Linked DNA regions of Homo sapiens. The protein of the gene in region 1 interacts with the protein of each later gene in a pairwise test. Each region holds a gene or a part of one and is shown on either strand. Other genes may lie near its edges.

Region 1 (5,729 bases):
GTTAGTTGATGTTGAACAGTCTTTGGAGTCTTGGGACAAGTGCTGTTTGGTTTGTTGAGTTTGTTGTACTTGGCTGGAATTCAGTATTTTTACTTTCATGTATGTGTTTCTTTTTTTTTGTTTTTTTTGAGACGGAGTCTCGCTCTGTTGCCCAGGCCGGAGTGCAGTGGCGTGATCCCGGCTCACTGCAAGCTCCGCCTCCCGGGTTCAGGCCATTCCCCTGCCTCAGCCTCCCGAGTAGCTGGGACTGCAGGCGCCCGCCACGACGCCCAGCTAATTTTTTGTATTTTCAGTAGAGACGGGGTTTCACCGTGTTAGCCAGGATGGTCTTGATCTCCTGACCTCGTGATCCACCCGTCTCGGCCTCCCAAAGTGCTGGGATTACAGGCGTGAGCCACCGTGCCCGGCCAACTTTTATGTATATGTTTCTAAATTAGATCAGACTGTAGTTTTTATTTTTGTAATGGATTGAATTAGGAAGCTTTGTGTTTTTTTGGTGTGTTCTAGAATGGTTTATATTTTCTTCTCAAATATTTGTCAGAAGTATCTGGGTCTAGTGGAGTTTTTTAGAGTGATTTTTTAAGACACTCTTTAAAAAAATTATTTAATATAGATCTATTCAGTTTTCCCACCCCTTCTAGATTCAGTTTTGGATATTACCATTCTTATTTTAAATAGTTTCCTTTTTTTTTTTCTTTTTTTGAGATAGGCTCTCACTGTGTCGCCCAGGCTGGAGTGCAGTGGCACCATCTCAGCCCACTGCAACCTCCGCCTGCCAGGTTCAAGTAATTGTCCTGGCTCAGTCTCCTGAGTAGCTGGGATTACAGGTGCCCGCCACCATGGCCAGCTAATTTTTGTATTTTTAATAGAGGTAAGGTTTTCACCATGTTGGTCAGGCTGGTTTCCAACTCCTGACCTCAGGTGATCCACTCGTCTCAGCCTCCCAAAGTGCTGGGATTACAGGCGTGAGCCACCGCGCCTGACCAGTTTCCCACTCCGTTATGATGGGGAGACCAACAACACTGGTCAATTGAATATTGAAAACATTTTGCGTACAGAACTAAACCCATCTTCTAATGAAAAATTAGTGTATTTGTGAAGAAAAGGTCATTGCATATTAGGCATGTAGATAACATTTCAAACTTTAGAGAGTGCCATTATATCTGTTGTGTATTGAGGTTCCTTTTTTTTTTTTTTTTTTTTTTGAGACAGAGTCTCGCTCTGTCGCCCAGGCTGGAGTGCAGTGGCGTGATCTCGGCTCACTGCAAGCGCCGCCTCCTGGGTTCACGCCATTCTCCTGCCTCAGCCTCCAGAGTAGCTGGGGCAACAGGCCTCTGCCACAACGCCCAGTTAATGCTTTTGTATTTTTAGTAGAGACAGGGTTTCACCGTGTTAGCTAGGATAGTCTAGATCTCCTGACCTTGTTATCTGCCCCCCTCAGCCTCCCACCTCGGCCTCCCAAAGTGCTGGGATTACAGCTGTGAGCCACTCTGCCCGGCCGAGTTCCCTATTTTCTTGGGAAGAACTTTATTGAAATGTAGTTGACATACTGTGCAATTCACCCATTTCACATGTACAGTTAAGTGATTTTGTATATATTCAGAGTTGTACAACCGTCACTACAGTCAGTTTTTGTTTTTGTTTTTGTTTTTTTGAGATAGAGTTTCCCTCTTGTTGCCCAGACTGGAGTGCAATGGCGCCATCTCGGCTCACTGCAACCTCCGCCTCCTGGGTTCAAGCAATTCTTCTGCCTCAGCCTCCCGAGTAGTTGGGATTACAGGCACCCGCCTCCACACCCAGCTAATTTTTCTGTTTTTTATTAGACACGGGGTTTCACCATGTTGGCCAGGCTGGTCTCGAACAGCTGACCTCAGGTGATCCGTTCGCCTCAGCCTCCCAAATTGCTGGGATTACAGGCGTGAGCCACCGCGCCGGCCTAGTCAGTTTTAAAATATTTTCATCACTCCAGAAAGCAACCTTATGTGTAACGTTTAGTTTATATAATATGTGGTGTTTTGTGTCTGGCATCTTTTACTTAACATAATGTTTTTAAGATTCATCCATGTTGTAGCACATAGGGTTCATTCCTTTGTATCACAGAGATTCATGCCTTTTTATGGTTACTATACCACATTTTGTTTTGTTTTTGTATAGCTGTACATATGTACCACATACGTATAGATAACGCTATACAGCATTTCATTTTTCCATTTATCACTTGATGGGCATTTGTGTTGTTTCTGCCTTTTGGCTATATGAATAATGCTGTTAAGAACAAGTACAAGTTTTTGTGTAGACATATCGTTACATTTCTCTTGGGTATATATCTAGCAATGGAATTGCTGGGTCATATGGTAACTTTTTGAGGAACTGCCAAATTAGCTTCCAAAGTAGCTGCACAATTTTATATTCCTGCTAACAGTGTATGAGGATTCCAGTTTCTCTACATTATTACATTGTAAACTGTTAGAACAAGTGCTGATTCTTTTACTTTTTCAGTCTAATTATCATAGTGTTCATTAAAACTGACCCATTTTAAAACTGCTTTGTAAACAACTATCTGACCTCTGTGGTCAGGGAAGATTTTCCAGAGGAAATGACTGTTGAATTGTCTGAAGTATCTGAATTTGTTAATCTTGTGAATATAGTGTGATAGATAAAGGAGGGAGGAAAGACTGTCATAGGAAAATGGTATGCAAAAGCCCTGCTTCTATGAGCTGAAGGAAGGAGAATAGGTTACAGTCGAGTAATTCAAAGAAGATTGTGTCCTAAACACAAAGAATGAGCATGAAGGCCAGGTAGGCCATATTACCTTAGGAGCAATGGGAATTCATTGAAGAGTTTTAAACAAGAAGGATGAGTACGTATACATTTTATAAAATCCATTCTGCTAACAGTGTACAAAACAAAGAGACCTCAGATTAGATGCAGGGAGTCCCATTAAATGGCTATTGGTGTAACCCAGGCAAAAAATTGTGGTAGTTTGGAACAGAATTATGGCAGTAGATTTGGAGAGACTGGATAGAGTTGGGAGACAGAAAGTAAAATGGACAGAAATATCTTAAATTACTGAAATTACTTGGTTACTTTGATTATGATTATAAAGTTTTAAAAATGATGATAGCTCCTGGTACGTATGTTACTTTTCTGTATAATATTTGTGATTTGTAACATCTTTACTTCAATTTATTTATATGAATTTAAGTACAGTGATAATGCATACATAGAGCTTTTGGGTGAATGGCCTTTTAGGGGAAAATCCTAATTCTTCAAAAGTCTAAAATTTTAAGAAATTATTCAATATTTACTATACTTTTGTTTGTGTATCCTAAATATCTCTTCCCTTATAGCTACTCCTTGAGTTAATTGCAGTGTGGAGAGAAAAATCAAGTAATATTAAACAGATATTCTCTCCTATGGTTTTGATAAATAATTATGCAAAGAATTTGGGAATTTTTGATGAAGAAGAATTTATTAAATGAAAACGTATGATGTCATGTACGTATTCTTTATATTTTAAGTAGTATTGTTTAATGGTTCTTTATTCTTTTAACTTTAGGAAACTAAATATATTTTGCCAACTTTGGAAAAAGAATTATTCTTGGCAGAGCACAGTGACCTTGAAGAAGGTGGACTGGACCTGACTGTGTCATTGAAACCAGTTAGTTTCTATATATCAGACAAAAAAGAAATGCTTCAGCAGTGCTTCTGTATTATAGGAGAGAAAAAGTTACAGAAGATGCTTCCTGATGTGTTAAAGGTACTTCATTACACATCAGACTAGATACATATGTAGAAATACAGCCTTCTTTGTAGCAATTTTTTGTTTTACTTAATGCGGTTTTGTTTGTTTGTTTTTTTGAGACGGAGTCTTGCTCTGTCGCCCAGGCTGGAGTGTGGTGGCGTGATCTTGGCTCACTGCAACCTCCGCCTCCCGGGTTCAAGCAATTCTCTTGCCTCAGCCTCCTGAGTAGCTGGGACTACAGGCATGAACCACCATGCCCGGCTAATTTTTGGATTTTTAAGAGACGGGGTTTCACCGTGTTGGCCAGGCTGGTCTCGAACTCCTGACCTCGTGATCTGCCCACCTTGGCCTCCCAAGGTGTTGGAATTACAGGTGTGAGCCACCGTGCCTGGCGTTAATGCAGTTTTTAATTGGATGTTTACATCTAAAATAAGCTACTTGAAAAGATTTTGTAAAATAGAGAACCATAATATATTTGGTTCTTGGAGCCTTGTATATTTAAAAATTTGCCACGAAGAAATGTTTAGGCAAGAAATGTGTTGACTCTGTGGAGATAATTCTGTTAAATGCAGGGAATGATAGTAACTAAATTGGACATACAATCTTTATGGTGCTTTAAGAAATAATGTCACAATATGCTGCTGTGTAACAACAAACAGCAATGGTTAATAATAGCTTATATTTCATTAGATTCACAAGTATTTTTATTTATTTTTGAAAATTATTTAGGGAAATATTTGTTGTTTTAATTTTACAGTTGTAGAAATTGGCCTTGGTCACTAAAGTTAAGCCTGAGATCATATATCTAAAGATACAAGACTTGAATATTTAAACCTTTAGAATAATTACTTAACATAAATAGACTGCTTAAGAATAGCTGGGAAACTGACTCACTCTTTAGTTTTTTTCTTTGATAGTAAATACAAGTTTATGCATTCCCTTCAAATATGCAGTGTTCACATATTAACTGGCAGTTTTTCAGATTTCATCCCAGGAAAAGATGTATGTGAATCTACTTGAGGCTTTAATTTATTTTATTGTAAGATTTTGCTAACTTAAATTTTTATGATTGAAATTTTCCAGTTTACATTGGGGCTGTGTTACATAAATGCATTTTTTTAAAATGTCATTTCCTTTAGAACTGTTCAATAGAAGAAATTAAAAAACTATGCCAGGAACAGTTAGAGCTCCTGTCTGAAAAAAAAATTTTGAAGATTCTTGAGGGTAAGAATACATATTTTTACATTCTGGCAACTTCTTAGTTAATACTATATTCAGCATAAATCCTGAGGTATTCTTTCTCCTACTTGGATATTTAATTTCATTATTGGGTTGTTGTTGAAGAGTATTTTTACTTCTATTTGCACTAAAAAATATAGTTTACATATCAGAAAAGCGTTTCAAGAATAGACAATATATTGTTTTTCCAGGTCAAGTGTATATAGGTAAGAGTATAACTAATAAAATGAAATAAAAAATGTTTACCAAAAATCTGTAAAAAAATTAATTATTGGAAAGGCAAAGATTTCCCTTAAAATCTTTTTAATTTTCTGCTTTAGATTTTTTATAGTGTTTAGTCACCTATTGCATATTGTTTACTCTCTAATAAGACCCAGATATAGAGTTAGAATACTTCCATGCAATTTACCAATATTTGTTTGTCTGCCTGTAGTGTGACTACTCTTGGTGATACTCACACCTCTAGAATTTTGGATTATCAGGCATTTTTTTTTTCTTTTGGGACTTTGCAAGGATTTTAGCTTTAACATGACAGAAGAAGAAACAAAAATTGGAGCCTTTCAGTTTCCAGTGATAGCTTCATTTTTAAATGTAAAATTGATGGCATTTTGTAACTCTGGAAATAGATATATACATATGTACATAGTGTGTAAGTGTATATACACACATTGTTGTCTGTATACATTTATATAATAGAGAAAAAGAAGTCAATGAGGCCGGGCGCGATGGCTCACGCCTGTAATCC
Region 2 (3,500 bases), on another chromosome or scaffold:
TAGCATTCCTCACCCGCTCCAGATGTGAAAACTAAAAATGTCTCCAAATATCTATGGCCAAATGTACCCTGTTGGTCAAAATCATCCCTGGTTGGGAACCACTGCCTTTCCAAAGGGACATAAAATATATCCTTGATTCCTCTGAATAATGTTAATTGATCTGTCTTCTCTCTCCTTTCTTCTATTTCTAAGTTCCTTTGATTTTTCCTTTCCCCTTTTCTTATTTATTCTCCTGCTTCTCCATGTTTCTCCCTGTCACTTTCAGACCTTCTCTCCCATTTGATCCCTCCCCAACCTCCACACAGTTTCACAGATTCACTTACTGAGTTCAGCAGGGCTGCTCACAGCCACGTTTCATAAATCTTTCTCCCACTGACTGGAGTCAGTCTTATGCTGGCCTGATCTATCTATCTGAGACAGGATCTCTCAACACTTTCAACTTTATATCCAGTATTGAACCCTCAAATAACCTCTTCCACAATCCAGACTTTTTGTCTTTCTTAGCCATAGTGGGACATGATGCCTGAAATGTCCTATCTGTGTTCTATGGAAATGCATTGTGGCCCATAGACAAGTGAGGAAGGATAATGGATGTATACATGTATGTCTTTTTCTCCCTCTGTAATCTTTGGGGTATTTTTTATTTGAATGGATATAGACAAGTTCTATAAAAGTGTGATGGAGAACAGGTACATTTGGTCTTAAATTGTATATGGGCACCTTAAAAACCCACTTACAAAAAGTTTAAAAGGTATATCTTAAAGACTTACATTGAGAATATTAAATAACTCTCAAACTCAACAGTAAACAACAAAACAACAACAACAAAAAACAAAACAAACAAAACCTAACAGTTCAATAAGAAAGTGGGGAAAAAACATTAACAGACATTTTACCAAAGAGGATATATAGGCAACAAATGAACTCCTGAAAATATATTCAGCATCTTTTCCTTATTAGGGAACTAGAAATTGAAACCATAATGAGATATCACTCTACATCTATCAAAGTGGCTAGAATAAAAAATAGTGACAAGACGAAATGCTAGTGAGGGTGCCAAGAAACCAGATCCCTCATATGTTGCCAGTGGAAATTGTAAGGTGGTACAGCCACAGTGGAAAAAGAGTATTGCAGTTTTTTACGAAATGAAACATGCATTTACCATGTAACACAGCAGTTTCTTGGTAATTTATCTCAGAGAAATGAAAACTGATGTTTCCACAAAAACCTATACATGAATTTATATAGCAGTTCTATTTGTAGTAACCCAAGGCTGGTAACAACTCGGATGTCCTTCAGCTGATGAATGGTTAAACAAACTGGGGTACATTGGGACCATGGAATACTACTCAGCAATAGGAAGAAACAGACTATTGATGCACATGACTTGGATGGATCTTCAGGAAATTATGCTAAATAAAAAAGCCAATCTCAGAAGTTTACATATTGTAGAATTCCATTTATGCAACATTTTTAAGCTAGAAAAATGATAGAGCTAGAGAACAGATAAGGAGTTGCCGGGGATTAAGGAGGTGGGGAAGGAGGAAGGTGGCTAGGCCATGACTATAAAGAATGACCCACTGTTGTATTGGGACTGTATATTAATAGTGTATATTAGTGTGTATTAATGGTGTATATTGATGGTGATCGTATGCATCTACACATGTGATAGAATTGAACAGAAATCAATACACACGCATACACTCTGTATTATTTCTTATAGCTGCATATGGATCTATAATTATTTCAATAAAAAAGTTACAAACAAAAGTGTGCCTTTATTATCCTGGAAGTACGATAGGATCTTTCAAGGATTTCTGTTTGGTTCTACCCTGCCTTTAGCGGAGTGCAAATACCAGTTCCAGGCCTGGGGAGAATGTGACCTGAACACAGCCCTGAAGACCAGAACTGGAAGTCTGAAGCGAGCCCTGCACAATGCCGAATGCCAGAAGACTGTCACCATCTCCAAGCCCTGTGGCAAACTGACCAAGCCCAAACCTCAAGGTAAGTCCTTGCCATTATACCACAATTTTAATGGATTGATGGACTCAGGTAAGATCTGGAAAACCCACATTTTCCAGAAGGAAATATTAGGTGAATTACCTTAAGAAAGTGACTGAAAAACTCCCCTACACTGAGAGTCACAAAAATACTTTAAAAATACTTTGAAGCAGGCAGCCTGTGAGTGCAAATTGAAGTCCTCTGCATAGATGAGGGGATTGGTACAGTCTCCTAACCCAAATAAATAACATAGCAAAAGAAACCAGCAAAGACAGTTGTATGATGACCATATATTCCACACTCTTAATTGGAACTGTATCCTGACAAGAAAAACAAACTCAGAATGTTTATGACGGAGACAATTTTAAATCAAACTTCTCCCAGATTATCTGAAATATAGTTTTCACAAAATCAGGAAAATTATTTTACATTTTCCCTTTATTCACTGCATAACTTAATGGGTTCTGCATTTGTTTTCAGAGCCTTTATATTTTTTGAGTTCAATTTGGTTACCAACTACATTCATCACAGAATTTTTAAATGACAGAGATCTGTATCTCCCAGAAAGTCAGGCTCTGCTCTCTTGCTGGAGAAGGTAAAAACAATCATTATGGCCATGAATTCATACATACAAGGATCCCAACTGAGGGAAATAAACTCTTTCATCATGGATGTTATTGTCTGAATTGTGTTTTCCCAAATTCATATGCTGAAGTTTTAACCCCCTCACAATGTCACTGTATTGGAGACAGGGTCTTTAAAGAGGTAATTGAGATAAAATGCAGTCACAAGGGTAGGCCCTAATCCAGTGCAGCTGGTGTGTTTATAAGAAGGGAGATTAGGACACAGAAATACATAGAGAGAAGACTGTGTGAAGACAGAGGGAGAAGAATGCCATCTACAAGCCATAGGGAGAACCTTCAGAAGAAATCAGCCCTACAGATGCCTTGATCTTAGGCTTGTAGCTTCCAGAACTGCAAGACAATAAATAAATAAATTTCTGTTGTTTAAGCCACCAACTCTGTGGTACTTTGTTATAGGAGCTATAGCCAACTAATACAATGGGACTCAATGAACTCTAAATTCAAATACCTTCTTGGCCTCTACTCATATATTTTAACTCTAAGGTGGTCCTGAAAATTCATACTGCCAGAGAAATTGTAAGGAGAGATTCAGAAAAATGACCATGTAAGAAATGCTCATAATAAATAAAAGTAGAAAAAAAAAATCTGCAGAAGGTGATGGAGATTGGCTGGTTTCCTGCTGGTGGCCAGAAAGGACTTTATTTTTCACAGGCCTGGCTTTTTGGCCACTGCTGGAGTTGTCCATAGAAATAGTTATCTCCAACTTCAGGATGGCCAGGTACAGGCTGGACCTGCAGGTGGTGAGTCTAGGGTTCAGGCTGCCCTTTCCAGATCATGGAAATCTCTGCCTGTTGTCATATGGTTTTTGGAAGGCATGAAGCAGGGCTGGAGTGACTGCAGTGAGTACTTATGCAG

What was found.
Region 2: the proteins of CAAP1 (region 1) and PTN interact in a two-hybrid assay, tested with the Homo sapiens proteins (one large-scale study listed by BioGRID and IntAct).

What each region holds. Positions count from the first base shown.
Region 1 is NC_000009.12:26,885,344-26,891,072, reverse strand, and holds part of CAAP1 (caspase activity and apoptosis inhibitor 1), read left to right. Parts: intron 1-3,559; coding exon 3,560-3,760; intron 3,761-4,884; coding exon 4,885-4,969; intron 4,970-5,729. UniProt on the Homo sapiens protein: Anti-apoptotic protein that modulates a caspase-10 dependent mitochondrial caspase-3/9 feedback amplification loop.
Region 2 is NC_000007.14:137,249,734-137,253,233, reverse strand, and holds part of PTN (pleiotrophin isoform 1 precursor), read left to right. Parts: intron 1-1,842; coding exon 1,843-2,004; intron 2,005-3,500.